Regions from separate parts of the Homo sapiens genome. Here region 2 is linked to region 1. Evidence: fine-mapped expression QTL. A gene starts in region 1. The other region holds a variant in brackets. All regions are shown on one strand. Distances are between the middles of the regions.

The links.
Region 2: its variant is fine-mapped to the expression of PTGIS in visceral fat (GTEx, PIP above 0.99).

What each region holds. Positions count from the first base shown.
Region 1 is chr20:49,561,158-49,576,400 of GRCh38, forward strand. It overlaps PTGIS (prostaglandin I2 synthase), which reads right to left and starts at 6,980. Exons shown (of 10, transcript NM_000961.4): 1 at 6,886-6,980. The coding sequence starts at 6,959. It overlaps LOC101927486 (a long non-coding RNA gene), which reads left to right and starts at 6,887. Exons shown (of 2, transcript XR_244188.4): 1 at 6,887-7,016; 2 at 10,056-10,777. RefSeq lists enhancers at 7,280-7,896, 7,897-8,511.
Region 2 is chr20:49,586,241-49,601,483 of GRCh38, forward strand. It overlaps LOC105372651 (a long non-coding RNA gene), which reads left to right and starts at 8,330. Exons shown (of 4, transcript XR_001754713.2): 1 at 8,330-8,589; 2 at 15,184-15,243. RefSeq lists an enhancer at 9,521-10,021. The variant C/G (reference allele first, on the strand shown) is at 8,473.

The DNA.
Region 1 (15,243 bases):
CTCTACCTCCCTCTGCCCCTGTCTCCTGCTCCCTTTTTCCCTCTACCTGGCTGCCCCCAGTATAACCCAAAGGGTGGGACAGCTCGTGGGCAGGAGCAAATGGCCAGATTTGAGGGCCAAGGCTGGGAAGGATGGGAGCAGAAGCAAAGATGAAATTTGAGGGCCTAGGAAGTGCCTCTCCCAACCATTCCCTCCTCTCCCCAGCCCATCCCGGCTTCTCTAGTCAAAGAGGAGACTTGCAAATTTGAGCTCTGTGAGTCTAAGGAGGTGCAGGGCCTTGCCTTGTGCCTCATCTTTTTGTGAGCCCCTGGGCTAAGGCCACTTCTCCTGAAGTCTCCACGTGTCGTGCTGCCCAAGTAGCCTTGGAATAACTGGTTCATGGCAGCCCCCTTCCAGCCCAGGTCAGAGCCTGGCAGACTGGACCCAGAAGCAGTGATTTTTGCATAAGAGGCAGGAGGGCATGGTCACGATGAGCCCAAACTTTAGCACCATACTTCCTGGCTTCAAATCCCAGCCACGCTTCTTGCTGGCTGTGTGACTTAGCTTCTCCATGCCTCTATTTCCTCATCTGTAAAATGGAAGCAATAATGCTACTGACTGCATTGGGCTGTGCCAAGGATGAGGGGAGTTACAGAGCACCTGGCACCTAGTAGCTGGGAAGCAGCTGAGAAGCAGGAGCAGTAAGATTCCTGGGCACCATTTACCTAGTGCCAACTACACATCAGGAGCTATACTTGGCATTTTCCAAACGTTTCCTTGTTTGGAAATAATGGCTAACATTTAATGAACGCTGATGGTGTGGGAGACACCACACTGAGGACTTTATCCCAGTGACTCAATGAATCCTCCCCCTAACCTTATGAGGAAGCAATTATTACTGCCAGGCCCATTTTACAGAGGAGGAAACTGAGGTGCAGAGGGCTAAGTCACATGCCAGAGGGTCCAACATAGAGGACTTGGGTTTCTAATCCAGACAGGTCTGGCTGCAGTGCCCACCCTCTTGACACTACCCTGGCCCCCAGTCACCCTAAGTGGGCATTTTCACCTCCATTTTGCAGAGATATTCCAGAGACCTACTCAAATGCAGGCCCTGAAATTTTCTCCTAAAACATCTTTGCAGGCGGGAGCAGGCTTTCTTCCCCTGCCTTTCTCCTGGCTGTGGCCGGAGCTCCCCAGCGAGCCAGGTGTTATTCCTGGCAGCTTTCCTCTTTCCCCAGAAAAGTCCCAAGGAGGCGCAGACAAAGGCAGGAAGCCCGGAGCCCAGGCGCCTGACCCCTGATGTTGGCTCCTCCAGCCTTGGGCCCTCAATCCAACTCAGGCCGTGGTCACATTCCAGGGTGACTCAGCCTGCAGCCAGCGGGGGCGAAGGAGGCTCTGTTTTGGGGACTGTGGGCTCTAGCCCCACCCACGGACACTCTCACTTTTTTTTAGGTACTGCCAGGCCCTGGCGGGCAGGGCGGTGGGCCCTGACCTTTCCATCCCCGGCTCCTGCCCACACAGCCGGTTTCCTGCCCACCCTGGGTCAGATCCCAAGGCATCTTTTCTGATTTCCGACTGGAGCCCCATCACATGGGTTCCTCTAAAAACGGCCTATTCCTCACTCACTGACCCCTGTCGCCTGCCCTGGATCTCTCTCCCACTTGACCCTTTGTGAACCAGGGAAAGGAGTCAAGGATGGGATGTCACCCGCCTCCATGCCCCCTGACGTATCGCATCTTCACTAGATGGAAGAGCCATGAAGGGAGGGCGTGTTGTTCACTCCAGCACTCAGAACAGTGGCTGGTCTGAATGAATCATGTATGCAGTCGGTGCTCAATGGGCAGCACCTGCCTCCCAGAGTTGCTGAGAGGGTTAAGAAAGCCAATGCAGGTTAAGCACTTGACACAGAGTCCATCTTCTAGATTGTCCAGAGCAGAGGCTGGCATGGTTCAGCTGTGCAATGTTGGGTAGACTGCCCAACCTCTCTGTTCAATCATTTCAACTCAATGCAGGGCCTTAAGCTCTGGGAGGATTTAATGGGGAACAAAAGGGGGCTTAGTTGCACAGGTGAGCTGGAGCAACCCAAAATTCTGTTTAACCTGCTTAACCCATTCTTCCCCCAGGGCTCACCCACAGGCCTCCAGGGTTTTCAGTCTGCCATTAACAGGGTTTCCCAGATGCTCTTCCATACCTGCCCCGCACTGCTACCACTGTGCATAAAAAGCACGTGGCCTTGCCCTAGTTTTTGTTTTCTGGTTTTTGAAATAGACACAAATTCACAGAATTATTTCTCAACACAGGAAAAAACAGCAGAGGAAGTACAGTGGTAACTAGAATAGCTGCATGCTGGAGAGGCAATAGGGAGTAGTGGGGACTGTGGCAAGATTTAGAGAGGGTGCTACCACTGAGTCCCAGGAAAGTATTGCTAGATCTTCCCATTTTTCAGAAGAAGTTGGAAATCTAGATTTTTGTGTATGGAATCCCCCAATTTTCTCCCCATGTCCCACACAGCACAAACCCAGCCCATCCAGGGCTGAATCCAGTCACGGACCACTGTTGGGTGACCTCTGGTCAGTGCATGTTAGAATGAGACAGATTTATTTGTGCCTACAAATTCTGCATCCTGCAAGGGCCCAGACCAGCCACTGGGCCACAGTGACCCTCGCTTGATGCCACTATGCCTTCCGGACCCCCAGAAAAGGAGCCTCCCAACCAAGAGATCTCTCTCAGTGCTCCCTGTGGTGGTCACACAAGCCCAAAGGAAGAGATGCAGTAGCCTGGTGATATGGCTGGGGCTTGAGAGACCACCTCCATGAGCCACCTCGAAGTACAGATAAACTGAGGCCTGGGAAGCAGGAAGAATGCTTCTGATACTCACAAGGCAAATCAATTAGTTTCAAGGGGCCCACAAGCCATACTCCTAACTCTCAGCTCACCACCCTCATGTTCACCGAATGGGGCTCGAAAATTCTTGCTGTAATTGCAGAAATTTGAATTTGAACTGGGAACTACATGACATTAAGAATTATCTTTTTATATTCTCAGGCAAGAAAATAGAATTGTAGTTGTCAGTTTTATATGCATTCTGAAATATTCAAGGGTGGAATATCATGACATCTAATTTTTTTTTTTTGAGATGGAGTCTCGCTCTGTTGCCCAGGCTGGAGTGCAATGGCGCAAGCTCCGCTCACTGCAAGCTCCGCCTCCTGGGTTCACGCCATTCTCCTGCCTCAGCCTCCTGAGTAGCTGGGACTACAGGTGCCTGCCACCACGCCTGGCTAATTTTCTGTATTTTTAGTAGAGACGGGGTTTCATCGTGTTAGCCAGGATGGTCTCGATCTCCTGACCTCTTGATCGGCCCGCCTCAGCCTCCCAAAGTGCTGGAATTATAGGTGTGAGCCACCGTGCCCAGCCTATGTCTAATATTTTTTAAATAATGTTAATGACTGTCAAATCAAGGTATAGGTACATGGGGCTTCTTACCGTATTCTTTTTCTTTTTCTGTATAGTTGAAATGTTTCCTAATTTAAAAGTTTTAAATTAAATTCTAAAGGTAAAGACGGAGTTGCTCACTCCCAGAAGTAGTGGTGTCTTACTGGGATAAGCATGAATTTTGGAGGGGCCTAGATGTGGAGTATAATTTTTGTATGACCTTGGGAAAGTCACTTCATCTTTTTAAACCTCAGCTGTATGATAAGGGTGATGGAAATTACCTCAAGGCTTGGTCAGGATAAAGAAATGAGACAAGGGAGCTGGAGAGCCTTGCTTATTTTAACCCAAACTGGATCACCATTCAGACGGCATCAGGGTCACCCACTTGTTTCACTTGTTTGCCCTTTTTTTTTTTTTTTTTTGAGATGGAGTCGCTCTGTCGCCCAGGCTGGAGTGCAGTGGCAGGATCTCAGCTCACTGCAACCTCCATCTCCCGGCTTCATGCCATTCTCCTGCCTCAGTCTCCTGAGTAGCTGAGACTACAGGCGCCTGCCACCACGCCCGGCTAATTTTTTTTGTATTTTTTTTTTTTTTAGTAGCGATGAGGTTTCACCGTGTTAGCCAGAATGGTCTCGATCTCCTGACCTCGTGATCCGCCCTCCCGGCCATTGTCCTTCTTTAAGAATTTTTTGCTTGTAGTTGCATTTCTTAGTATCTAAAAGTCACATGGTTCTAAGACTTTTGAGTGTTCAGATTACCAGTATAATGTGTGGGAAGACTGAGAATTCATTCTTCCTGTGAATTAAAAATTCTTGCAAAGCCAGGCGTGGTGGTTCACACCGGTAATTCCAGCACTTTGGGAGGCTGCGGTGGGAGGATCGCTTGAGCTGAGTTTGAGACCATCCTGGACAACATGGCAAGATGCCATCTCTACAAAATTTTTAAAATTAACTGGGCATGGTGGCACACACCTGTAGTCCCACCTACTCAGGAGGCTAAGATGAGAGGATCACCTGAGCCCAGGAGTTCAAGGCTCCAGTAAGCTATAATTGTACACTGCACTCCAGCCTGGGCCACAGTGTGAGATCCTATCACTAAAAGTAAAAGCTAAAAATTCTTACAGCCCAGAGTTTTAATCCAGACAGACCTTGAGCAAGTTGCTTAGCCTTTCTGAGCCTGTTTCCTCCTCTGTAAAATGGAGATAACCAGAGTGTCCCTAGCTGAACTGGAAGGAGAAAGTGAGATTGGGGATCTAAACTGGGGTCCCCAGGGTCCATGCACCTACCCTCAAGCTGCCAGTGACCCTCATTCCCACACTTCTCCCCACTACCCACTGTTGACCCTTCCAAGGTGCCCACAGGTATAAAAATCAAAGGCTCAGCAGGGCGCGGTGACTCACGCCTGTAATCTCAGCACCTTGGGAGGCCGAGGCAGGCAGATCACCTGAGGTCAGGAGTTCGAGACCAGCCTGGCCAACATGGAGAAATCCTGTCTCTACTAAAAATACAAAAATTAGCTGGGCATGGTGGCACATGCCTGTAATCCCAGCTACTGGGGAGGCTGAGGCAGGAGAATCACTTGAACCCAGGAGGCAGAGGTTGCGGTGAGCCGAGATCGTGCCATTGCACTCCAGCCTGGGCAACAAGAGGGAAGATCCATCTCAAACAAACAAACAAACAAAAAAAGAGCCCATAACGTATTCACATGATGGAAGACTCCAGAGAGGATCAAAAGAATGGATTCGATCTCCTTGTAGCAAAAAGATCTGCTTGTAGCAAAAAGAACAGATGTCAAAACTAAAATCTGGAGTGAAAAGAGCAAGCAACATAATGTCTGAAAACATTTCTATACAGTGTATTGAGAAAGCCTGACAGGAAAAATAATTCATTTCTTCCCTGAGACATTTATTCACTGTCTTTTTCTTTTCTTGTTTTAAGGCAAATGATTGACTACACAGTTGTAAATTTCAGCTGAAAAGATGTCTGGAGGTTGAAGAAAAATACAGTGAGCTTATTGTTTGAAAATTCAACTACCATATTGTTTAAAAATCAAAAAGTTCCCAAGGTTTCCGGAATTTTCAGACACGAATGTAAACTAACTCTCTCTTACGTGGCTCTGTATTAGCTACAAGCTCATGTCTATGTATGTAAGAGTAATTTTTATGTAAGAGTAATTTTTAAAACATCTGGGAGACTGAGGAGGTATGAAAACTAAAGGCAATGTGGTAACTTGGGGCCGGATCCTGGAACAAAAGAGGACAGTAATGGGAAACTGGATAAAATCCCGTGAAGTTTGAAGTTTAGTTAAGAGTAACGGACCAGTGTTGGTTTTTAGTGGCGACAAATGTCCCATAACAATGTAAGATGTTAACAATAGGGAAAACGGGGTGAGAGAAATACAGGAACTTTTTGTACTATCTTTGCAACTTTCTGTAAATCCCAAACTAGTCTCAAATAAAAAGTATATTTTTTTAAATATGGAAGGTTCTACCCAGACTCAGCAACAGGAGAGGCCCAGAGAGGGAGAGAGGACTAGACTTCAGGGGCTGGGGGAGGGTTAAGGGGCTTCGGTCTTACCTATAACAGGATAAATATTTGTGTTAAGTCGAATGTATTCAGCTATTCCTTATGCAATTCAAGTTAACTTAAAAAATATTTTATGAAAAGGAGAGCTACAGCTATCTCCTTGATTTGAGGCTGTCTTTACTTTTTCTCCTAAATCACAGATGCTCAATGGAGCTGGAAAACCTTTGGGACCAGGAGGCTGTGACATCTGACCCTGGCTCCGTTCTGTCCAGGCTGTGGGACCTCAGGGGAAGGTAGAGACTTCATAGGCCTCAGTTTCTCCCTGGCAAATGAAATTACTAAGCCCACCGACCCCCGTCTTCCAGACGGGGAATCCCGGGGTGGGTGGTTCCAGGGCATGATCAAGACATCCCCCAGGGGCTCTACACTCCGCTGGCTCAACACTCCCATCTGTGTAATGGGTTGAGGAGCGAGGCTATCCCTATAGGACTGCCGAAAGCAAGGCAGGGTTTGACAGCGCGTAGGTGGGTGCCAGGTGCAGGCAGAGGCTGGAGAGTGGAGAGCGCTTCTTCCACCCGGGCCACGCAGAGGCTGTCCCCGCACGGCTCCCCACCCACAAACCCTCGGTCCTCACCTGAAACCCCCTCCTAGGTCCCTGCCGTCGCGCTAAGGGCCAGACTCGGACTTGTCGCGGTGGGCGATTCGCCCCGGGGGACCTACCGGACCCCGCACCTTCCCACCTTGCACCTTCTTGGCAGGGGGAGCACGGCCTGGCCCCCTCACCCACGTGCGGGGCCCCGGGACTCCCACCTCCGAGGGTCTCGCCTTGCCCGGGATACTGGAGCGGGACTCGGGCCGGGCCGGCCGCGGGCTCCGAGACCCTTGGGCTGCAGCCCGGGCGGGAGCCGCCCCCTTTGTCTGGCGGGGCCGAGCGGAGCAGGACACTCACCGCGTGCGGCGGCGGCTCAGTAGCAGCAGCAGCAACAGTGCGGCCAGGAGGCCGAGGAGCGCGGCCCAAGCCATCGCGGGGCTGGCGGGGCTGGCGGGGCTGGCGGGGCTGGCGGCCTGGCCCACTCCCAGGTAAAGTTCCCCGCCCCCACCCGGCGCGCCCCTCCCACTCCGCCCACCCCAGCCCGCTTTGGGGCGGGGTGGGGGGGGTGGGGGATGGGGCCCTCCGAGGTCCGCAGGGGTCGGACCGGGGCGCTCTGTTAGAAACCCTGCTCCCCCCAGCTCAGGCCTGATGGAAAATGTGGGAGGGAGGGGAGGGGAGAAGGAGGGGGAGGGGGAGGGGGCGGAAGGGATGTGGTGGGCTGGGGAGTGATCAAGGGGAAAGGAGATAGATGGGGGACTGAGGGGGATGTGGTGGACTGGGGGGTGATGGAAGGGAGGGGAGAGGGAGAGGATTTACAGGAAGGAAGAGATTATATGCGGGGAGGGAAGAGGGATGGGGAAGATGGGAGAGGACTTTTGGGGAAGGGAAGAGGAGGGAATGTGGGAAGACGGCGGGACGATGGGGAAACAGCCAAGGAGGTATGGGGAGGAGGGGGCACAGTGGGAGGAGAAAATGTGGTGGGAGGGGACGAACATGGAGGAGGAGTGTAAGGGGGTCAGGAGGAGCTTTCCCACCACATTCCACATTCCACCTAGACAGAGGAAACCCCCCAAGGCTCCTCCTCACCCCATCCCCCACCCCAGGCGTGCTGGGGACCTGGAGTTTTCCATTCTGTGGTCTGGGCTGGGAGGGCTGGTCTGGATTATATCGCACCCTATAGTATCTTCAGTAACTACTGGGCAGGGGGTACAAGGGTGTCTCAGGGAGTCCCCTCATCCTCACCTGCTTTGGGGACAGATAGTGCCCGTGAAGTATGCACCCTCTACCTGGTGCACGTTAGGGCCTCCGGATGTGGTGGCCATTGTCATCGCTACCTGGTGCTTGGGGTGCCAGCCCCCTGTGCCCGCGGCTCTGCAATGTACCACCCCAGGGTGCTGATGAGAACTGGGGGTCAATCCAGCCTCACTCCACGCCCCTGCCCCCACCATCCCCATTCCCACCCTGGGAAGCGTTGGGCAGGTAGCTCAACCTCTCTGAGCTCACCTCATTATCTGGAAACAGGGAGGGCAGAGTTGTGCTTACCTCTGGGGCTGTTGTGAGGAAGTGATGAGAGCTTGACACTAAAAGGAATCACAAACTGTTGAGTGCTTGGCACACTAAGTTTTATGAAACCATGGGCTGAACCTGGAGGTAAGACCCAGGAGGTCTTGTTCTAGTCCTGTATCCACCCATTCAGTGCCGGGTGAGCTTAGGCACGTTTCATTCCATAGTCCCAGCAGAGCTCTGGAGAAGCTGTTGCTCCTCCTGGTCTCCTGGCTTCCATCCTTATCAGCCAGGGTCCTGACAAGGCCCTTCGAGAACCAGCATGATCCGCCCCTTCTCACCTTTACCTGCCTGACCCTATGCCCCCGACTCTCTCCCTCACCCACTCTGCTCCAGCCACACTGATCTCCCCATCTTTCCCTAGAGGTCCCACTGCAGGGCCTTTGCACGTGCTGTTCCCTCTGTTCGGAGCATTCTTCGCACAGCCTGCTCTTTCCACCACCTCCCCGGTGCCTCTATCTCTGCTCAGCTGTCACTGCAGAGAAGCTGTCTTTGGCCACCTGGTCTAAAACAGTCATCTCCTCTTACTGATTTTTGTTTCTTTGTTTTTTTGATAGTTTTTTTTTCTGGCAGTACTTCACATGTCCTGCTATCATACTCAAGATTCATTCATTTGCCTGCTTAATGTTGGCTGTCGAGGCAGCTGGATGACCCCCTTGTGGCCTCAGCAGATTCAGAACAGCAGGAGGCAAAAGGAGTTTTCTGATCCTCTTGTTTATTTTTCCAGCTTATCTGCCAGAGAAGCCAACAATCCCAAGAAGGCCATAGAACGGGTCCAGAGGATTTTCTCCAAATTTGGGGAGCTCCAAAGGGCTGTCTGCTAGCAGTGGGGTTCACAGCTGGGCTTGGCCGATCCTCAGCTTTGTGACCCCAAGCAGACTGCTCCACCTCCCTAAGCTGAGGTTCCTCATTGACAGAATGGGGAAAAGAGAACCTCATGGAGTTGAGGTCAGGAACAAACGACCTGGTCCATGGGGCACACCTATGTGAGTGCCTGTCACACCATGAGCATCAGGGAAAGTTAACCGCAATTAGCGCTTATACCAGTTCCGCTCCTCTCCATTATCTGTGATCAGGCTTGGTCTCAATTTTCCCATCTGAAAAATGGGAAGAACAGTTCCTTCCTCATGGGGCTGCTTTGAGAACTGAATTAAATGAAAAGAGAATGAAATCACCCAGCACAGGGTCTGGTATACAATAGGTACTCAATAAATATTAGTTCTTCTACTCCCCACCCCTGGCTTCAGTGCAGACCAATATCACCTCAATACAAATATCTCTTCCAGATACTCTCTTCCCTTCTCGACCCATAGACAAAATCCTCCCAGGGAAGGAGAGGCAGCTGCTCACACACCAAAGGGAGATGAATGTGAGCCTCTGGTTCTTCCTGGATTTGTTCAGGAGTCGGCATATGTTTAGGAAGGTGGCCAGGCCCCCTTCCCAGAGAATGACCCACCATGGGTCTGAGCTGGTCCAGGAAATCCACCTTTGCTAGTGATTTGTCCTGAGGTGGGCACCTTCCAGATATCTGTTGCGGGCTTCTAGAAAAATGTGTTTCCTTCCTATTTGCCTTCTCTTCTGCTTTGGGGGCAATCGTGTGGGAATGTGATTAGTGGGGGAGCTGAGGGGGGCTGTAGTGTTATGAGGGAAGGCCAAGAAAACTGCAGAGCCCCAAACCAGAGCTGCGGAATCACCATCCCTGGAACCACCTGCCTATAGATTTCTCATTTAATGAGCTAACCACACGTCTGTGCTAGGACACCATGAGTCAGATTTTTCTAATACTTGCAGCCAAAGACATTCCCAACTGAGACGCCTTCTAGATATGGCTGAAGGGAGGACCAAATGAGGCAATGATGCATCCGGAGCACCTCTGCAGGACTGGCCCATGCGAGAATTCAAAAGTGTTGCTTTGTTTTATTATTTTTACTTTGCTTACTGTGTAAGCTTTCTATGTTTATCAGGCTGACAGGACATCCAACCCTCTGGCTATGGCATCTTGGAGGAACAGGCAGGCCTTGAAAATAGCAGAAATTCCGAATTCCCCTGCCCCGGGAGGACTCAAAGGACCCTGCTGAGGACAGAGCTGATATGGCCTCAGAATAAAGATGAGGGAAGACCATCCCAAGGAAGACCCCTCTAGCCCATGGCAAAAGGGCTGGAATACGCAAGGATTTGAAAAGCAAGTTTTGCTTTCCATATAAACCTAAGCAAGTCGCTTAATCTGTGAGCCTCAACTACTTTACTTGTGCAATGGGCATGTTGCTGGTAGTGGTGATAGCAGGGAGCCACCGAGAGAGCTTCCAAGTGTGCCATCTAAGCCCTCCTCTGGGGAAGGGAAGCTCCTCTGGGGAAGGGAAACTGGACCCCCGGGAAAATTTATTCTCCCAGGGACGAACATCCAGACATTTCCCTGTAGGAGCCTCAGTGTGTTCAGATGTTCACTGTCCAGTAGAAACAAGACATCTAGGCAACTCTCCCATCTCACCAAGCCTCTGCTCTCTTCTGTGGCCACTGTGGGGTTGTGAGAGTAATGTCAAGACCCAACCCAATTAGAACACAGGGAATTTTGCCTGGGAAAGGGAGCCCTTCTACCCTACACCCCTGCTTTCTCTCTTCCAAGGATCAGGTCTGATTCATGTCTGCATCCTAAAGGCTACAAATAAACTGTGTCCGGAAAGGAAAATATTATGTGTATTGCCTTCTTCAAGGCTAAAAACCAGTCTCAACAGAGAGGGGCAGTTTTAAATATTTTTTTGTAACAATAGTTCTAACTTTAGTTAGTAACTGAAGCCATCTGAAACACTTTTTCATAATAATTTATTTATTCCCCACAAAGAACCTATAAAATGGGTAGTAAAATTATTCCGAATTCACAGATGGTGAAATCAAGGTCCAGAAAGAGTCACTTCACCCAAGGTCACGTAGTACTTCCTTTGATAAGCTAGAGCATGGGAATTTGATGGCTTCTTAGGACAAGCTAACTTACTCCCTGGTGCTGCAAACACACCCTGGGCCTTCCCACCTCCACACCTTTGCTCATGCTGTTTACCTGCCTGGAAGCCCTCTCTTTCTCTACCTTTTGATTTTTCCAAATCGGTTAGGAGCAGGTTCTCCAGGAGAGCCAAGATGAGATGAGATATACTAAAGGCTTATTGAGGGAGTGCCAGGGAGTAAAATGAAGAGGGAGCCAGAGAGGGCTGGGAGAAAGGGACAGAAAGGAGGACAAATGGAAGGAAGGGACAGAGGAAAGAAGGGACCGTGGGCTGCAGTGCATTCTTAGAAAGGTCAAGTCTGGCCGGGCACAGTGGCTCATGTCTGTAATCCCAGCACTTTGGGAGGCTGAGGTGGGTGGATCAGTTGAGGTCAGAAGTTCAAGACCAGCCTGGGCAACAAGGTGAAAACCCCGTCTCTATTAAAAATACAAAAAATTAGCCAGGAGTGGTGGCTGGCACCTATAATCCCAGCTACTTGGGAGGCTGAGGCAGGAGAATTGCTTGAACCTAGGAGGCAGAGATTAGAGTGAGCCGAGACCGCACCACTGCACTCCAGCCTGGGTGACAGAGCGACTCTGTCAAAAAGAAAAAAGAAAGAAAGAAAAAGAAAGTAAGTAAGTTAGTTCAAGGCTAACAGGTTGTCCTTGAGCCTCCTGAGGAGCCCTATGTCTCCCAAGAACAAGTCTGCTTCCCCCAGTGATTGGCTAGGAGCAAACCCTGGGAAGCATGGCATATCTGTCAATCAGGCTCCACCAAGGGAGGTCCCAGAGGTGTGTTTTCATGGCTGCTGCAGCTACGAAAGGAAGCACAGCTGCCGTCTAAAACTGGAACAATGCAAGAATAAATTCTTCCACTTACAGAAGCTAAACGAGGTTGAGAGGTGGAGGGGAAGGAGAGACCCAAACCGCAACGTTTCTGGTGTTTTTGTGCTGCTAAAGAGAGAGTGGTAAACTCAAGTCTTCGAGCAAGTATTGCAAATGAATGAAGTGAGCCAGTCATATCAGGAAGGCAACAGGGAGGGATGGGAACAATGGAAAACTAGAGAGGGCTGCCCCATCCAAAAGGAAGCAGCTTCTGGCAGTACCAGCCAACTAAAGCCACGTAGAAATACATGCCTAGTGTGGCCAGATCTTTAGACTCAAGAGAAGCCAGAAATAATGGCTCCAATTATTTTAAAACGCTGCATAGACCAACAGCACACACCTGCCCCCAGATTTTTAGCCCTGCAGTCTAGTTGTGCCAAGGGCCAGTGGTTTAAACATTTGGGGTATGTAAAATAGGTTTGGAGTTGGGATGTTGAACAAAATTGCTCTGTAGAATTAAGGAAGGACAACAGAGTTTTAGGGGGCAGCCTGAAAGAGGGGGCAAAGACCAGGCCGACATGAGCACAGATTGGGGGCCTGTCCCAGTGTGACATCCTCTGTGGAATTAGGAGCCAATAAATGACCATTTCTATTGGTGATGTGTCATACTGAGTGTTTAGTTGTTTGCTGTCTTGGGCTGTGGAATAACACCACACATACACTCATATACATACACACGCACACACACACATGCACTACTCTCACATACACACTCACATGTTGCCCCAGTTACCCCCAAACGTTCAGAAACAATCTGCTACACACGTCAAGTGACCAACGCATCCTGGTTTGCCCAGACTTTCCCAGTTTTAGCACTGAGAGCCCTGCATCCTGGGAAACCTCTCGGTCCTGGGTAAACCAGGAAGGTTGGTCACGCTATCACCACACCTCAGCGTAGCGTGTGAGTGGCCAGAGATTGGGTCAGAGCTGTGGCAGCCACCTTGGAGCCTGAGGAGAATCTTTGCTAAGTCACACAATTAATTAGCCACCCCTGGAACTGTGCTGCAGTAGATTAGATCATAGTCTCCAATTTTTACCCACTCCCTGTATCAGAATTAGACATTCACGCCCTTGGCTGCAGGGTTGCGGTGCCTCCCACTATGAGCAGAGAATAGTATCTCCCTGACTCAGTGATGGTGGACTCGGGCCTGTGACTCAATTTGATCAGTGGAGGATGAAGAAATGACCAGTTGCCAGTTCTGAGCAGAGGTTTCACGAGGAATCACATATTTCCACTTGACCTTGGTTTCTGCCTTGAGCCATGACCCACAGGGCAAACCTGAGCTCAACCTGCAGCCTGAAGTAGAGAACCCCTAGCTGACCTGCAGAGGTCCGAAGAAGAAAAATGTACGTGTTGTTACAAGTCATGGAGATTTTGAGATCTTCTTAAGCAACAAGAATTGACTAATGTATACTTTATCTCTGAACTTTTTAGAATCCTTTTGGTTGAATGTTCTTTGTACCAGTTAAATTAGAATAGGCTGCTTTCTACTCTTGGAGCCTTGGTACATCTGTACAAGAGGATGATGACGACAAGGCCCCCCTCCCATGGTGGTTGGACGAATTCAAGAAGATCTTGTGTCTAGTGCATGCAGTAGGCACTTAATAAAAGAGATGATGCTAGGCCGGCTGCAGTGGCTCACGCCTGTAATCCCAACACTTTGGGAGGCTGAGGCAGGAGGATCATGAGGTCAGGAGTTCGAGACCAGCCTGGTTAACATGGTGAAACCCCGTCTCTACTAAAAAATACAAAAATTAGCTGGGTGTAGTAGGGGACACCTGTAATCCCAGCTACTCAGGAGGCTGAGGCCGGAAAATCATGTGAAACCAGAAGGGCGGGGGTTGATCGCGCCACTGCACTTCAGCCTGGGCAAAAGAGTGAAACTCTGTCTCAAAAAAAAAAAAAAAAGAAAAGAAAGAGAGATGAAGCAAGGCTGGGCTCAGTGGCTCACGCCTGTAATCCCAGCACTTTGGGAGGCTGAGATGGGTGGATCACTTGAGGTCAGGAGTTCAAGACCAGCCTGGCCAACGTGGTGAAACCCCGTCTCTACTAAAAATACAAAAATTAGCCAGGAATGCTGGCGTGCGCCTGTAATTCCAGCTACTCAGGAGGCTGAGGTGGGAGGATTGCTTGAACCCGGGAGGTAGAGGTTGCAGTGAGCCGAGATTGTGCCACTGCACTCCAGCCTGGGCGACGGAGTGAGACCCTGTCTTAGCAACAACAACAACACAGCAGCAGCAGCAACAGCAACAACAACAAAAGAGATGAAGCATAATTCTTTCAGCACATATTACCAAGTATTTATTTGCCAACACTGTGCAGGCCTCTTTATCAAGAATTTTACTGAAGAAATGAAAGACAGAAAACCTCTTCACTTGGTCTTTTTTATACATGAAGAGAAAGCAGGTCTGAATCAGAGGCAGAGGGTTGGAAGAAATGACCTGTTTTCTGCCATCTGGGCCTTGCTGCTGACTGTCTCTAAGAATTTGCACAGGCCTGGGCCTTTGGAGATTTGAAGGTCTCTAAAGTGCAAGGATGTCAGCTGCAGGGGAGCCATCCTCCAGCATCCTTCCCCAGGAGAGCCAGGATTATGTAGGGAATGTGCTTGGCTAAGAGCCCAGAGGTGGGGCAGCTACCCAGATGCAAACATGGCTGGGCCAGGCGGCCTTTCGTTCAGCGTTCCCAGGCTAATTCCACCTAGACCTTGTCTTAGCCTGTGAGAGGATGTTCTGGAGTGGTCTTGCCCCTCTTCCCAGGCTATCTGCCAGAGGTGGTGGGTGCTACAGGAGAGGGACTCCAGCAAGCTTCTCATCCTTTGGTTTTCCCAGGACGGGGGACAGGTGGCCTCACGGCTCCCAACCAGCTGCCTTGGCACTTTGTAGTGGAAAAAATGATGAAGTCAGACCTCAGTCTCCTCAACTCCCTGCTGTCCTGCCTGAGAGCCAGCCTAGCATGGAAGGCAAGGAGAAAAGAGACCCATGTTGATCTGTCACCCAGACAGACCCTGAGTGATGATGCTCCTGCCACCCTGAAGCACCCCAAGAACCTCAGAACTTCTGGCTTCTCATCTTGAAAATGGGACAGCAGTCATAGCTGCTTTGCTTATTATGTCAAGGAGTTACTAAAGAGGATCCAGTTAGATAGTGGGGGTAGAAAAATGGCTGCCTAAGGCCACATTTACCCTCTCCTTCTAGAAATTATACCAGAGCATCAAGAATAATGGAAAAACAAATATACAAAACCAAACCACAAACTCCATTTTTAGCAAAGCCAGGAGAGACATATAATTCAT
Region 2 (15,243 bases), 25 kb after region 1:
TGCCTCGGTCTCCTCAGTAGCTGGGATTACAGCCACCCACCACCATGCCTGGCTAATTTTTGTATTTTTAGTAGAGACAAGATTTCATCATGTTGGCCAGGCTGGTCTTTAACTCCTGACCTCGAATGATCTGCCCACCTCGGTCTCCCAAAGTGCTGGGATTACAGGCATGAACCACCATGCCCGGCTCAGTCTTGATATTTTTAAGCAAGGGAGTTGGAGGTGAAGGGAAAATTAAGTCAAAAAATCTTACCCAGAGGACAGGTGTGGTAGCTCACACCTATAATCCCAGCACTTTGGGAGGCCAAGGCGGGCAGATTGCCAGAGGTCAGGTGTTCGAGACCAGCCTGGCCGACATAGTGAAACCCCATCACTACTAAAAATATAAAAATTAGCCGGGTGTGGTGGCGGGTATCTGTAATCCCAGCTACTCAGGAGGCTGAGGCAGGAGAATTGCTTGAACCCGGGAGGTGGAGGCTGCAGTGAGCCGAGATTGAGCCACTGTACTCCAGCCTGGGTGACAGAGCGAGACTCTGTTTAAAAAAAAAAAAAGGCTGGGCGCAGTGGCTCATGCCTGTAATCCCAGCACTTTGGGAGCCTGAGGAGGGCGGATCAGGAGTTTGAGACCAGCCTGGACAACATGGTGAAAACTTCTCTCTACTAAAAATACAAAACTAGGCGGATGTAGTGGCGCACACCTGTAGTCCCGGCTACTCAGGAGGCTGAGACAGGAGAATCGCTTGAACCTGGGAGGCAGAGGCTGCAGTGAGTCAAGATTGCACCACTGCACTCCAGCCTGGGCAACAAGAGCAAAACTCTGTTTCAAAAAAAAAAAATCTTATCCAGAGAAGAAGTCATTTTTTTAGACACAAGAATACTTTGTTTATACAGATGGTTGCTATAAAAGGCCTGACTTTGTGCCGATAGAGAAGATGGATTTATGGTGAAGGCAGCTCCTGAATGAGCTCAGTAATCAAAGTCAAGGTCCTGCCAGGTTAAGCTGCAGCAGGCTCCGCTCCCTACCAAAAATGACAGGCTCTGCTCCATCTGATGGGTTCTGCTCCAGATGATGGAACTCATAAGGGCATCATGCTGTCAAACGGTTTTACTGCCAAGACTGTTGTTCATGTGTCCAAAGCATCACGTCTAACCTCTAGGTTACGATGACCCCAGAGCTTGCAAATCTTGGTGGAAGAATTGCACGGAGCCTGAAGTATGTTTTTCATCGGAAATGGTGCTCATTAAAGAAATACGTGCCTGTTAGCCATCACTTGGATTGTACATGACATCGTTGATGTTGCGTGTGTGTGTGTGTGTGTGTGTGGGTGCACGCACGCACTTGTGTGTTTACATTTTCTTTTCCTTCTTTGTTCCTCCACTAAAGCAGAAAAAGTGTTAGAAGATGTTTAAGAGAGATGTGGAAACAGAGAGAAATGCAGTTTTATCCACTCTTCTCTCTTGTAAGATAAAAAATGTGTCTCTGGGCAGGGCGCGGTGGCTCACGCCTGTAATCCCAGCACTTTGGGAGGCTGAGGTGGGCGAATCATGAGGTCAGGAGATCGAGACCATCCTGGCTAACACGGTGAAATTAAACCCCATCTCTACTAAAAATACAAAGGATTAGCCAGGCGTGGTGGCGGGCGCCTGTAGTCCCAGCTACTCGGGAGGCTGAGGCAGGAGAAAGGCTGAACCCAGGAGGCAGAGCTTGCAGTGAGCCGAGATCCGCACTCTAGCCCGGGCGACAGAGCAAGACTCCATCTCAAAAAAAAAAAAAAAAAAAGTGTCTCTGGGTGTTTTTAAGCCAAAAGCCATTCTTCACCAGGAGGGCTTGTGGGAAAGCAGATTCTGACTCAGTAGGTCTGGGGTGAAGCCTGGGATGCTACTTCTCCAATGCACTCCCAGGCAACGCAGCAGCCGCCAGTCTGGGAGCCATGCCTGGGAGTGGTGGGGCCTTAGCACACAGTGTGTGTCCCTGCCTCTGGACACCTCCTGCCATCCCTGCTCTTCCCTCCCGCTGCTAAGTCTCGCCCTGGTCTCCCTGCCTTCTTAGAGATGGCGCTTCCTTTAGCAAGTGTTTGCTCCACTTAAGGATTCAGGGAACATCCGGGCTGGAGAGATGCTGGAGACCATCCCGTCCAACTCTCTTCAGTTCCCAGTTGCTTTTGTGGCAAGAGCTAAAAACCCAACTCAACCCACACACGTTTATATAGACTTGTGGAAAATACAAAGGGCTTTTTTTTTTTGGTGCGTTTTAAAATATAAATGGTATCATATTGTGTGCGTCATTCTGTGCCTGTTTTTCTCTCTTAGTAACCAATCTTGGAGGTTTTTTAGGTCAGCAGAGAAAAACCTCCCCATTAACAGCAGTACAACATTCCAGGATCTAAACAACAGCCTTGACATTACTGACATTTACGGCTGGACAATTCTTTGCTAAGGGGCTGTCCTATGCATTATAGAATGGTTAGCAACATCCCACCGGCATGATTCCAGTAGCACCCCTCGCCCCCATCAGTTGTGACAACCAAAATGTCATCAGACATTGCTAAATGTGTCCTGAGAGGCAAAGCTGCCCTGGTTGAGAACCATGGGGATAAGATGTAGAAGAGCAAATTCCAAAGAGGTAAGATGAGTTACTTCCTGGGGCACAAGGAAGGACTGGAATGGGGATAGAGAGTTCTCATTCTTTATGACTTCATTCATTCATCCATTTCATACATATTTATTAAGCACCTGCCATGTTCCAGACACCATGCCAGGTGCTAGGGAGGCAGCAGGGAAGAAAACAAGCCAATACCTTCCTATTGTGGCTCTGCCATTCTCCCTGGGGAGACAGACATGAAACAAACAAGGAAGACATCAGTACGGAAGATGTGCTAAAAACTATGGGAGAAAGTAGGACAAGGGGAGCTGGGAGTGCTGGGGCCCAGGTGGGGACTTCAGAGCCTCACATATGATGTTTTAATGTATTAAAAGGAGAATATCTCCATGAGTTATTTGGATGATTTAAAATTTTTTTATTACTTGAGCCTAGGAGTTCAAGACCAGCCTGGGCAACACAGCAAGACCTTTCTCTGCAAAAATTTTTTTTTAATTAGCCAGATGTGGTGGTGCACATCTGTAGTTCCAGGTACATGGGAGGCTGAGGTGGGAGGATCACTTGAGCCTGGGAGGTGGAGGCTGCAGTGAGCCATGATGGTGCCACTGCACTCCAGCCTGGGCGACAGAGAGAGACCTTATCTCAAAAAATATTTTTTTTTTAAGATGGATGGGCTAAGCCAGTCCCAGCCTGGCTCCCTGAAGCAAGGAGATCTTTCAAGGGGCTGAACCCGGGTGCCTGGGCAGCAGCTGGCCTCAGCCCCCCATTCCTTCCTTCAAATCCCCTTGCTTAGGACAATAAACTCCTCAACAGGTACCCTCAGCTGCACTTGCATGGAGCTGCACCGCCATCCCAAGAGCTCGTGGTGGGCCTTTGAGGCACCCTTTCTCCATCTGTGTGGGTTCCTCCAGCCCATTGTTAAAAGATAGTAGTAATGTCTAACATCCCTGTAAAAAAATAATCCCCATGTTTCTCGAGGCCCTAGGTTTCTGGTCCCTGCTCCCTCTCTGACTTTTTCTCCTCCCACTCTCCCCCAACTCACTCAGCTCCAGCCACACTGACTTTCTTTCTGCTCCTCAAACGTTCAGGCTGGGTCCTGCCACTGGGCCTTTGCACTTGCTGTTCCTAATGCCAAGTCTTTCCCCATGGTCTCCCCACAGCCAGCTTCTTATCAACCAAGTCCCAGCTGACATGTCGCCTCCGCAGAGAGGACATCCCCGACCACCCCAGCCAAAGGAGGCCTTTTCTCCAAATCTCCTTACACGTCTCTCTCACATGTGTGTTTCTGTTACAGTTTGAATCTGTGTCCCTGCCCGAATCTCCTGTTCAACCGTAATCCCCAATGTTGGAGATGGGGCCTGGTGGGAGGTGATTGGATCATGAGGGCGGTTTCTCATGGTTTCACACCATCCCCCTTGGAGCTGTCATCCCAATAGTGAATTCTCATGCGATCTGCTTGTTTGAAAGTGTGCGGCACTTCCCCTCTCTCTTTCTTCCTCCTGCACCAGCCATGTGAAGATGCCTGTTTCCCCTTCAACTTCCGCCATGAGTAAAAGCTCCCCGAGGCCTCCCAGGAAGCAGATGCCACCATGCTTCCTGTAGAGCCAGCAGAGCTATGAGCCAATTATACCTCTTCTCTTTATAAATGACCCAGCCTCAGGTATTTCTTTATAGCAGTGTGAGAACAGACTCATAGTTTCCTTCATTGTACTTGTGACTTGATGAAATGATTCTGTTTGATTCTTTGCCGGGTTGTTGTCAGCTCCATAAGAAGAGGACTTTATCTTGTTCTCTGTGTACAAACACATAGTAGGTGCTCTGTAAGTACTTGTTGAACAAACATGTAAATGAATGAATGAATGAGAGCCAGTGTGATTTGGATGACTGCGTGCATGTGCTAAGTAAACTGTTTTCCATGATCTCTGGGGTTGTGTGTGTGTGTGTGTGTGTGTGTGTGTGTTCAGTTTGGTTTTTGCCACATCTTTATACCCTCTGTTCTATTACAACTTAGCATTTTTCTTTTTATATAAAGAAACTCATTTAAAGGAATCTTGACAATATCACTAGAAACAGAAAGCCAGTATCAGCACATACTTGCTATAAATAGCAAAAAAAAAAAAAAAAAAAAAAAAAGAAAAGAAAGAAAGAGAGAGAGAGAAAGAAAGGAAAACCCTATGCATATAAATTCCATGAAGATGTGAAAAAGTTATCAAATTCTCACAGGGTATGATTGCTACTGTAGTTTCTAAGCCTGAGGCTTTAGAAAATCGATACTCTCTTGAAAAAAAAAATTTAAGCCTGAGGCTGTTGTGTCTTTCTTAAAAAGGAGATTGGCAGGTGTCAGAGAGGTGTTCAAGACAAGTTAACTCCAACCCGAGGCTTTCTCAATGATCTTTCTCCAATTCATCCCAACACCCACTTGCCGCAGACCCTGTGGAAGGCCCCAGATCCAAACTCCCTTCCTGCTAACAGCAGCTGTCTGGGGAGATTTCCTTCCAGTTGAGCCATCCAAGGACTCCTCCCCAGCCCTTATCTGTGGAATGGAAAAAATACTAGCCCACACCTCATAGATTAAGAGAATCAAATGAGCTCATTTATAGAAAGCACATGGAACAATGACAAGCATGAAATAATAGTCACTGATGTTTACTGAGACTAACAGCATGTCACACCCAGTGCAAAATGCCTCACGTCCTCCCACAGAGTCTTCATAACAACCTTTAGCTCATGGAAGTACTATTTTTACCCTATTTGGCCAATGAAAAAGCAGAGGCCCAGGAAGGTGAAGTAACTTGTCCAAGGTCACACAGCAAGGAGGCAATAGAGCTGGGATTTGAACCCCGGCTGCCTGACTCCAGAGCTGTACAAAGCCAGATACCACAGAGGCTGGGTTATTGTTCGTCCAGACCCATGTTCCCACAGGTCCTCTCATCCCTTACCTGCTCCCTTTCTACCTTGTATTTCTATCCTCCTGCTCTGAGGAGATTCCTCTCCCTGAAGATGCTTGGGCTTGAGGGAACCAGGAGGAGAGGAGGTGAAGTTGGCCTGGATGACTCTGTGGTCAGGATCCTAATGACCCAGTAATTTTCCTCCAAGTCCAGTATTCTCAGGATTAAGTCCTAATCATCCATCTACCCACTCACCCACTCATTCATCCATCTGTCCATCCATCTATCCATCCATCCATTCATCCACTCACCCATCCATTCATTTACTTATTCATCTATTCTCCCATTCACCCATCCATCCACCCACCCACCCACACATCCACTTATTTACCCACCCATTTCATCCATTCTTCCATCCACCCATCTATCCATCTATCTATCCACTCACCTGTCTATCAATCCATCCATCCATTTATCCAGCCATCCATTCACCCACCCACCCATTCATCTGTCCTCAATCCACTCACCCATCCACTCATTTACTCACTCATTCATCTATTCTCCCATCCACCCTTTCATCCACTCACCCACCATCCATCCATCCATCCATCTACCCATGCATCCATCCATCCACCCATCCATCCATCCATCCACCCATCTACTCATTGACCCACTCATTTCACCTATTCTTCCATCCACCTATGTATTCATCCACCCACTCACCCATCTACTCATTCACTCACCCATTCATCTATTCTCCCATCTACCCCCATTCATCCACCAGTCCATCCATCCATCCATGTAACATTTACTGAAGGCTCACTACCTGCCTGCAAGGTTCAGGTGAGGGACAGAGCAGGACTGTACAGGTGTCTCTCAGCCTCTACCCTCCCTCATTCCTGCTTCCATCTTCTTCTGATCTGGGATAATTCCTCTCCTGGGAGATCCAAGGATGATGGGGAGCAAAAGGCGGTGGGGTGAGGGGTTGGGGCTTCGGCACTGCCTCTCTACTGAGGCCCCAGTCCCTTCTCTGTATGGACAAAATGGAAACTTGTGGTTTTTCTTCCTGCATTGAACCAGCAGGCTGAGCTGGGGCTGAACTCCTGGGACATTAAAAGGGGGTGAGAGGTGAAGATGCATCCAGGTGGGGGGTGTGTGTGTGTGTGTGTGTGTGTGTGTGTGTGTGTGTGAGAGAGAGAGAGAGAGAGAGAGAGAGAGAGAGAGAGGAGGTGGAGGGCGAAAGGCCTGTGCATCTCTGTCTCTGTCAGGCACACAGAGAATGGCAGTGGTGAGCCTGCAATGTATTGGGAAGACATTATTGTTTGCTCAGAAATGGCCAAGAACCCCAGCTCCTCCCTGCCAGGAGACACAGGATTCTGCGCCTCCAGGCACAACCGTCTTCCCTCCCTTCCACTTTCCTCCCTCCTCCTCAAACCCTTGCCCAGGTGCCCCCCGGCTGGCTGGGTTCACCAGAGGATAGATGACCACATACTAATCCCAGCCTCCTGTGGAGGTTAGTCCCACCCTCCACCGAGGTGGAAAATTCCTGCAGGTAGAGTCAGCAGTGGTTCAAGTCCCACCGTTGTCCATGAGATCGGACTACACAGCACACACGGCCGCTTTTTTTTACCTACCACGTGTCCCACGTCTCCTACAGTCCTTTAATCCCTGACCAGTCCTTCAGAGGATGGACACGCTCTGATCTTTGTAGCCTCTCTTTCTCTCCTCAGGGATCACACCTCACTGTAGACCACAGCCCAATGTCCCAGGTGACTCACTTACTAGAATTTGTAATTCACTTCATCCTGCCACCACGCCCCTGTGAGCTAGACACCCAAATTGACTCCATTTTACAGATTTGGAGACTGAGGTGCAGAGAGATTAAGTCCCTGTCTGAGGTCGCATGGTGGATGAGCAGCAGACACCCTGGCGGGCAGCCTGGCTCCTGAGCCACGCGTCACCACCGTCTTAGTGGAAAATCGGCCACAAGGAGGGATTCCCCTTCCAGTCTCCTGGCCCTTGCCAAAGGATCCATACTAGACATGAGAGGAGGAAGGGAGTCCACACCGAGTCTGGCCTCAAACCCTCATTCCTTAGGAAACTGCGCTAATGTCGCCCCCTCCCTCCCTGTGACCACCCCAGGTTGTATCTGCACCTTCCCAGCTAGCCCAGGTGTCATTACATATTTATCTGTTGATCACTCGGCTCCAGGGACTGCCATATCGGCCCAGGAAGTCACGATCTTGTCTGTCTGGTTAGGGGCTGTGGTCTGGCACTGGGCACATAGTCAGTATTCAATGAATTTTGGCTAAAGCCCTTTTGGATCGATCATCTATTGCCAGTGTGGCTCAGATGCAGCCCCCGCCACTGACTGTGTGACTCTGGCAGGTCACAACCCCTCTCTGAGCCTCCCTTCCATCATCTGTAAAACAGACTTATCTCTGAGTCCTACACATGTTAAACACTCAAAGGATTTCTGTTGCATGAATTAGTGAAATCCGAGCTGGAAGGGCCTCTAGAGCCCAGGGTTGCAAACTCATAGACTCCAAAAGCCAGGCAGGAGCCAGAAACCACCGAGGGAGCTGGGTGGGGACGGAGGCAGCTGCTACTCAGCTCTAGTCACAAGCACTGCCATATCTGGTTTCTCAAGAAAAACCAGAAATCTAGAGATTTACAAGAAGTTTCCCAATTTCTAAGTATTGGCAACTAATTTAAAACATTTAAACACATCTGTGGACGGGATGTGGCTGCAGGCCGTTTCTTTGCAACTCATGATTCATCTAACTGCTCGTGGCACAGATGAGATCAAAGCCCAGAGAAGGTGAGCCACCAGCCCCAGGTCACAGAGCACAGGAAGTGAAGAGGAAACAGTGACCTTTCTCCTTCGGCTGCAGCCCTGTTGCCCAAGCTCAGGGCAACCCCTGAGCCCTGATCCCAAGGGAGGCAGTGCCGCCTTCTCCTCTAGGCCTGGCAGTTCCAGGGTGA[C/G]AGGAAGGTCACGATATCTCTGTTTGGGTGCACTGCAGCCTCCGCTTCCTGCCAGGACCAGGCTGTATCAGGCACTGGGATGAAGAAAACATTCCAAGCAATGGGCTGGCCTAGAAGGTAAGAGCTGGTGGCAGAGAGGGGGTAAGCACACCCCTTCCTTACTTCAGGGACGTGCAAACCCCTTCAGCAGGCCTGGGCAGAGCTGGGAACAGGGCGGATCAAGCCCTGCTTCTGGAGAAACATGCTCTGCCATTGGAGGCTGGGAGCTCTGTCCCCGCATGGCTCGTAGGACCTTGGAATGCATTTGTCCAGCAGCTTCTAATACACCAGGCCCTCATCTGACCCGCACCCCCACAACCTCCATGGGCTCTCCTCCCTCTGTCCCCTCTTGATCTCTCTACGCAGGCACAATGGTGCCTGCTCAGCCCTGAACACAGCAGCCCTGCTCCCACCTCAGGGCCTTTGCACACGCTATTCCCTCTGCCTGGTTCACTTCACCCATTATGCAGATGGCTTACTGTAGACCTCTACTTGAATGTCGCCTTCTCTGTGAGACCCTCCCTACCTGTTCACTCTGTTTAAAAATGCAAACATCCCCCACAGTCCTTAGCCTCCATCTGGCTTCCTTTGACCCTGCTGTGCTTAGGATGGTGGGACACATATGTTACACGTGTTTATTTGTGTTTCCCTTTCCTGTTGCTGCTGTAACAAATCGCCGTGAACTTGGGAGCTGGAAATAACATGAATGTGTGAGCTTACAGTTCTGGAGGGCTGAAGCCCACAGTGGGTCTCAGCAGGCTAAAATCAAGGTGTGGGCAGGACCACGTTCCTTCTAGAGGCTCACAGGGAGAATCCGTTCCTCCAGCTTCTCAAGGCCACCTGTATTCCTGGGCTCACGGCTCCAACCTCCATCTTCAAAGCCAGCAACGGCGAGGCCATCTTTCCCATGCTGCATCCCTCCGCCTGCAACACCTCTGCTTCCCTCCTGCACTAAGCCCCTTGTGATGACACTGGGTCACGATGTCATCATCTGGGTAATCCAGGGTCGTCTCCCCCAGCTCAAGGAGACTGCTCAGCAGCCTCCATTCCCCTTGGCCGTGTAACCTTGTACATTCACGGGTTCCAGGGATGAGGACGTCTTGGGGAAGGGCGCATGAGTCTGCTGACCACACACACCAAACACACCAGGCGTTGGCTCCAGGAAGGCACGTGGTTTGCTGCTTTATGTATGTCCAATGCCTGGTGCATAGCAGGTGCTCAGTAGACCCTTGGAGACTGCGTGGGTGCTGGAGTAGAATGTTGTGGCCGCCAAAGGGAGGCAGGAAAGGTGACTCAGCTACCCCAGTGGTCCTCCCCGTCTTACTGATGAGGAGACTCGGGGAGAGCTGAGATGCTGAGGGCTGAAGAGCTGTGACTTAGCCCCTACCCTTCCACACCCATCCTGTGCCCACAAAGAGGGGTGGGCCCTGGGCTGTGTCGGGGAGCCCCAAAGAGAAGGCCTGAAGTCCGGCAGCTTTAAAGGGGACAGTCCTGGCCATGAGCCCTCTCTCTGAGCGCCCCTCACAACCCCTACAAGCTCCCCTCCCAAGGCTAGGCCAGCAGTGCCTGCAGGGGGCTGCCCAGGCGTGGTCCTGCCATGTGGGAACTGCCTGTGTGGCCCAGCAGGACCCAGATGAGTCACAGGAAAGCTGGGGTGCCCTCCCTCCAGCCCCACGTGTCTCCCTGGCTTCAAAGGAAACCGACTGAGGGTCCAAGTTTCCTCATGACTGAAAAATGTTCCACCCCAAAAATGTTCCACATGAGCAACAGCTCACCCAGAAAGAAAGAGAAATGAAGTAAGTGGCTTTTCAGCATGGGGAGAGACACTTGGCCATGCACAGCTACAGGCAGAGATCTGGGAAACAGAACGCCGGGGAAAGCAAGTGAGGAACAGGAGAACTCTGCAAATCAGAACACTCATCATAAAATAATTCTGCTTGTTTCACAAGGACACATATACATCCAGGGACATATATCATGGGCCTCGGTATGGAGGCTCAAGGAGAAAACAAAACAAAATAATTTATTTTGTTTTAAATTATTATTATTATTTGAGACGGAGTCTCGCTCTTGTTGCCCAGGCTGGAGTGCAATGGCCTGATCTCAGCTCACTGCAACCTCAACCTCCCGGGTTCAAGCGATTCTCCTGCCTCAGCCTCCCCAGTAGCTGGGATTACAGGCTCGCGCCACCACGCCTGGCTGATTTTTGTATTTTTAGTAGAGATGGAGTTTCACCATGTTGGCCAGGCTGGTCTTGAACTCCCGACCTCAGGCGATCCACCCGCCTCAACCTCCCAAAGTGCTGGGATTACAGGCGTGAGCCACTGCGCCTGGCCTAAATTATTATTATATGTTTATTTTGTTTTAAATTATTTTTATATTTTACAATGGAGCTTCCTGACATGTGACAATGATGCTACGGTTTTTTGTTGCTGTTTTTTTGTTTGTTTTTGAGATAGAGTCTCACTCTGTCACCCAGGCTGGAGTGCAGTGGCACAATCTCGGCTCACTGCAGCCTCTACCTCCCACGTTCAAGAGATTCTCCTGCCTCAGACTCCCGAGTAGCTGGGAGAACAGGTGCCCACCACCACGCCTGGCTAATTTTTTGTATTTTTAGTAGAGACAGGGTTTTGCCATGTTGGCCAGGCTGGTCTCAAACTCCCGACCTCAGGTGATCCGCCACCTCGGCCTCCCAAAGTGCTGGGATTACAGGCGTGAGTCACTGCGCCTGGCCAATGACACTATGCTTCACTGAACAAGCAAAAGGTACTCTGCTTCACTCTTCATTTAAAAATAGAAACTGAAACCATACTGAGACACCTGCTTCCATCTATTAGAGTGACAAAAACATCAGAAAGTTCACAATACATGGTGCTGATGAAGTTGTGGGGAAACAGGCACCCTCACACATTGTTGGTGGGAGAATAAATTGGTACAACCTCTACAAAGTGCAGTTTGGTCATATGGATCAAAATGTAAAATGCACAAATCTGTTATAAAATCTGACTTCCAGAGATTTCTCCCACAGATACATTCACACACACACACACACACACACACACACACACACACACACACCACACTATGTACAAAGACAGTCACCACAGTATTGTTTGTAGTTGTTGTTGTTTTGAGACAGGGCCTTGCTCTGTCAGGCTGGAGTGCAGTGGCGCAATCACAGCTCACAGCAGCCTTAACCTCCTGGGCTCAGTGACCCTCCCACCTTAGCCTCCTGAGTAGCTGGAACCACAGGCACGCACCACCACAACCAGCTTGTTATTTCATTTGTAAACATGAAGTCTCTCTATGTTGCTGTGGCTGGTCTCAAGCTCCTGGGCTCAAGCAATCCTCCAGCCTCAGCCTCCCAAAGTGCTGGGATTATAGGCGTGAGCTTCTGTGCCTGGTCCACAGTATTGCTTTATAACAGAAAAGGCTGGAAACAACCTAAAGGGCCATCAGTAAGAAAATAACTATTAATGAATATGGTCCGGCCATGCAGTGGAATACTATGCAGCTGTGAAAAAGGACAACACAGGTATGTGTGATGAATTAGAAAGAATGATAGGTATGTTAGGTTAAAAAAAGCAAGCTGCAAGACACTGGGTGTAACATGCATCTATATATGTAAATAAAGAGTGCATACAATCATGTGTGTTTTCGTACGTACAGACTTTCAGTGGCAGAGCCCGTGGGAAACTGGAAGCAGCATTGCTTAGGGAAAGTGAAACCTGGGGGTTAAGGGTGGGGAGAGACACTCGTTTTCATTGGATACTTTTTTCTGTCATTGAATTTTTTCCCATTTAAATGTCTTACCTATGTTTTAAACATAATTTTTAAAATATAAAAGCAATGCTCACTTGTCACAAAATCTAAGCAATGAAATGCAAATGATATGAAACCAGTTGTCCCTAACCACTCCCCTGAAATCACTACTATTAACATCTTTCCAGAGTTAACAAAAGGTCTTAAGTTTAGATATGCTTCTTTTTTTTTTTTTTTTTTTTTTTTTGAGACAGAGTCTCACTCTGTCACCCAGGCTGGAGTGCAGTGAAACAATCTTGGCTCACTGCAACCTCTGCCTCCTGGGTTCAAGCAATTCTCTGCCTCAGCCTCCCGAGTAGCTGGGATTACAGGCGCCCACCACAATGCCCAGCTAATTTTTGTATTTTTAGTAGAGACAGGGTTTCACCATCTTGGCCAGGCAGGTCTTGAACTCCTGACCTCGTGATCCACCCGCCTTGGCCTCCCAAAGTGCTGGGATTACAGGTGTAAGCCACCGCACCCGGCCTAGATATGCTTCTATATTATTCGAACTTGTGCAACAGGCTGTGTGATTTGAAATTAAACACAAGGGCCAGGCACAGTGGCTCATGCTTGGAATCCCAGCACTTTGGGAGGCCAAGGCAGGTGGATCGCTTGAGTCTAGGAGTTCAAGACCAGCCCGGGTGACATGGCGAAACCCCATCTCTAAAAATAATAAATAAATAAACAAATAGATAGATAGATAAATAAAGGAAATTGAACACAAAACCTCCCTTTTGAGTCAACGATTATCAAGGAGGCTGTTATAGTTGCAGAGGTGGCCTGGACAGAGTGGTGGCCATAGAGACAGAGAAGTGGCCAGTTGTAGGAGCAAATGTCACAGGTTCAACTGACAGGGTCAGACGCACAGGCAGGGAGAAACAGGAGGGAGGACATGCCATGAGCTCCCTTGTCTAGGCCCACACTGAGGTGACACGGCCCAAGTGCCCCAGCCCGACAGGGTAGACTGCGATCAGGGTCAGGAATTCAGTGAGGCAGGTCCTGGAGCACTGGGAGGGGGTACGAGGGTCTCAGATATCTGGGGCTGGGACTCTTGAGGTCATAGCAAGATAAGTGGATGACATACTCAGTTTCAAGAGTTAAACCCCAGATTTACATGGCTGCCTGGAGTCTGGATTCACTGGTGTGAAATTTGGAGGGAGATGACGATAATAAGAATACTAATACTAACAGTAACAATAACTATCATAAGAACAGAGGCCAACACTCTGTAGCACTTACTACAGGCCAAGTGCTATATACGTGTTAACTCATAATCCCACAATCACCCTCTAGATATAGGTGGGTATAGAGAAGCATGCCCCCATTTCACAGATGAGAAAACTGAGGCCCAGAGAGGTGAAGTAATTTGCCCACGGTCACACAGCTTGTATGGGATAGAGAAGGGCAGGGCGTATCACTGAACAAAATGGAGGTCCCTTCACCCCAGAGTTGCAAACCCAGCCTCCCTCACTCCCACTACCCCTCTGGGCCTCACTGCATGGATGGACAGTGGCAACAACCCCTCCTGGGCCTCCCTGACTCTACCCTCGTCCCCCATTCCCCACAACAGTCCCTTCTCTATCCAGCGGCCAGAGCGATCTTCCTAAAGTTCTAGTCTCATCTTCCCTTGGTCTGCTCTCAGGCAGGGCCAGGCATTAGGTGAGGCCAGCAGGTGCCGGCACAATGTCAGGAGACCCCCCTCCCAGGTGAGCCCCTGCTCTGGCCTGATTCACAGCGAGGCCTCCTTAGGTTTTGAACACTCAGTGTCCCTCTTGCACAGATGGGAACAGACAGTCTCTGGAATCCCCCCAAAGCCGCATTTGAAGTTTCTTTCCAGGCAGACAGGCCCTTTCCAGGCGGATGGCTGCTTCAATCCAGATGAGGATGGAGGCCTGGGGATCTGGCAGCTCTGGGCTGATGGCACCACGTCCAGGGGAGAGGTTTCTGTTTTCCTGCAGTGGTTCTCTGGCCTATGCTTGCTGGATGGGGGTGTTGGTAAATCCTCCAGCTTCCTGGGGCCTGGGGAGGAGCAACCCTGAGGTGGACTCTGCACCCACTCCCAGAGGCCCCAGCAGGACGGAGCCCCAGCTGCCCAACTGATAACCTGCTCATCTAGACACCCAGCAGTACCAGCTGCCCCCTCCCCTCTGCTCTCAGAGCTTCCTGCGATCAGCTCCCCGCTAAGTTCCCTGCCCTTGGACTCTCTAAGTGTCTGCTTCTGGAAGAGGCCCAAGCCAAGACCTGGGAGACAGGTCAGTGGCTCAGGGCTCTGTGGCTCATGATATCTGCAGTATTCTCTCTGTGGCCTGGGTCTTCCTGTCTTCTGGGTGATCCCTCGGCCTTTGGGAGGCCGAGGTGGTTGGATCACCTGAAGTCAGGAGTTTGAGACCAGCCAGCCTGTCCAACATGGTGAAACCCCGTCTCTACTAAAAATACAAAATTAGCCAGGCATCATGGGGCACACCTGTAATCCCAGCTACTCGGGAGGCTGAGGCAGGAGAATCGCTTGAACCCCGGAGGGGGAGGTTGCAATGAGCCAAGATCACGCCATTACACTCCAGCCCGGGCAACAAGAGTGAAACTCTGTCTCAAAAAAAGGAAAAGAAGAGAAAAGAAAAGAGAGAAGAAAAGAAAAGAAGGCAAGGAAGTTCCATAGCCCATACAGTGGGTATCTTAGGCAGGGCTCTATCAGATGAAAAATATAGCAGAACCCTGACTCAAATTGGCTGATGTCATGAGAATTTACGTCAACTGTCTCTGGTAAAAGCAGGAGTAGAGATAGGCTTCAGGCATGGTTGGATCCAGATGCTAAATCAATGTCTACAAAGATGCACTACCTCTGGCTCTCATCTCTTTTACTCCACACAGACTCTCCAGGTCATGATGTGACCAAGGTTGCCCCTTGCCACTCCCAGCTTTATTCTCACC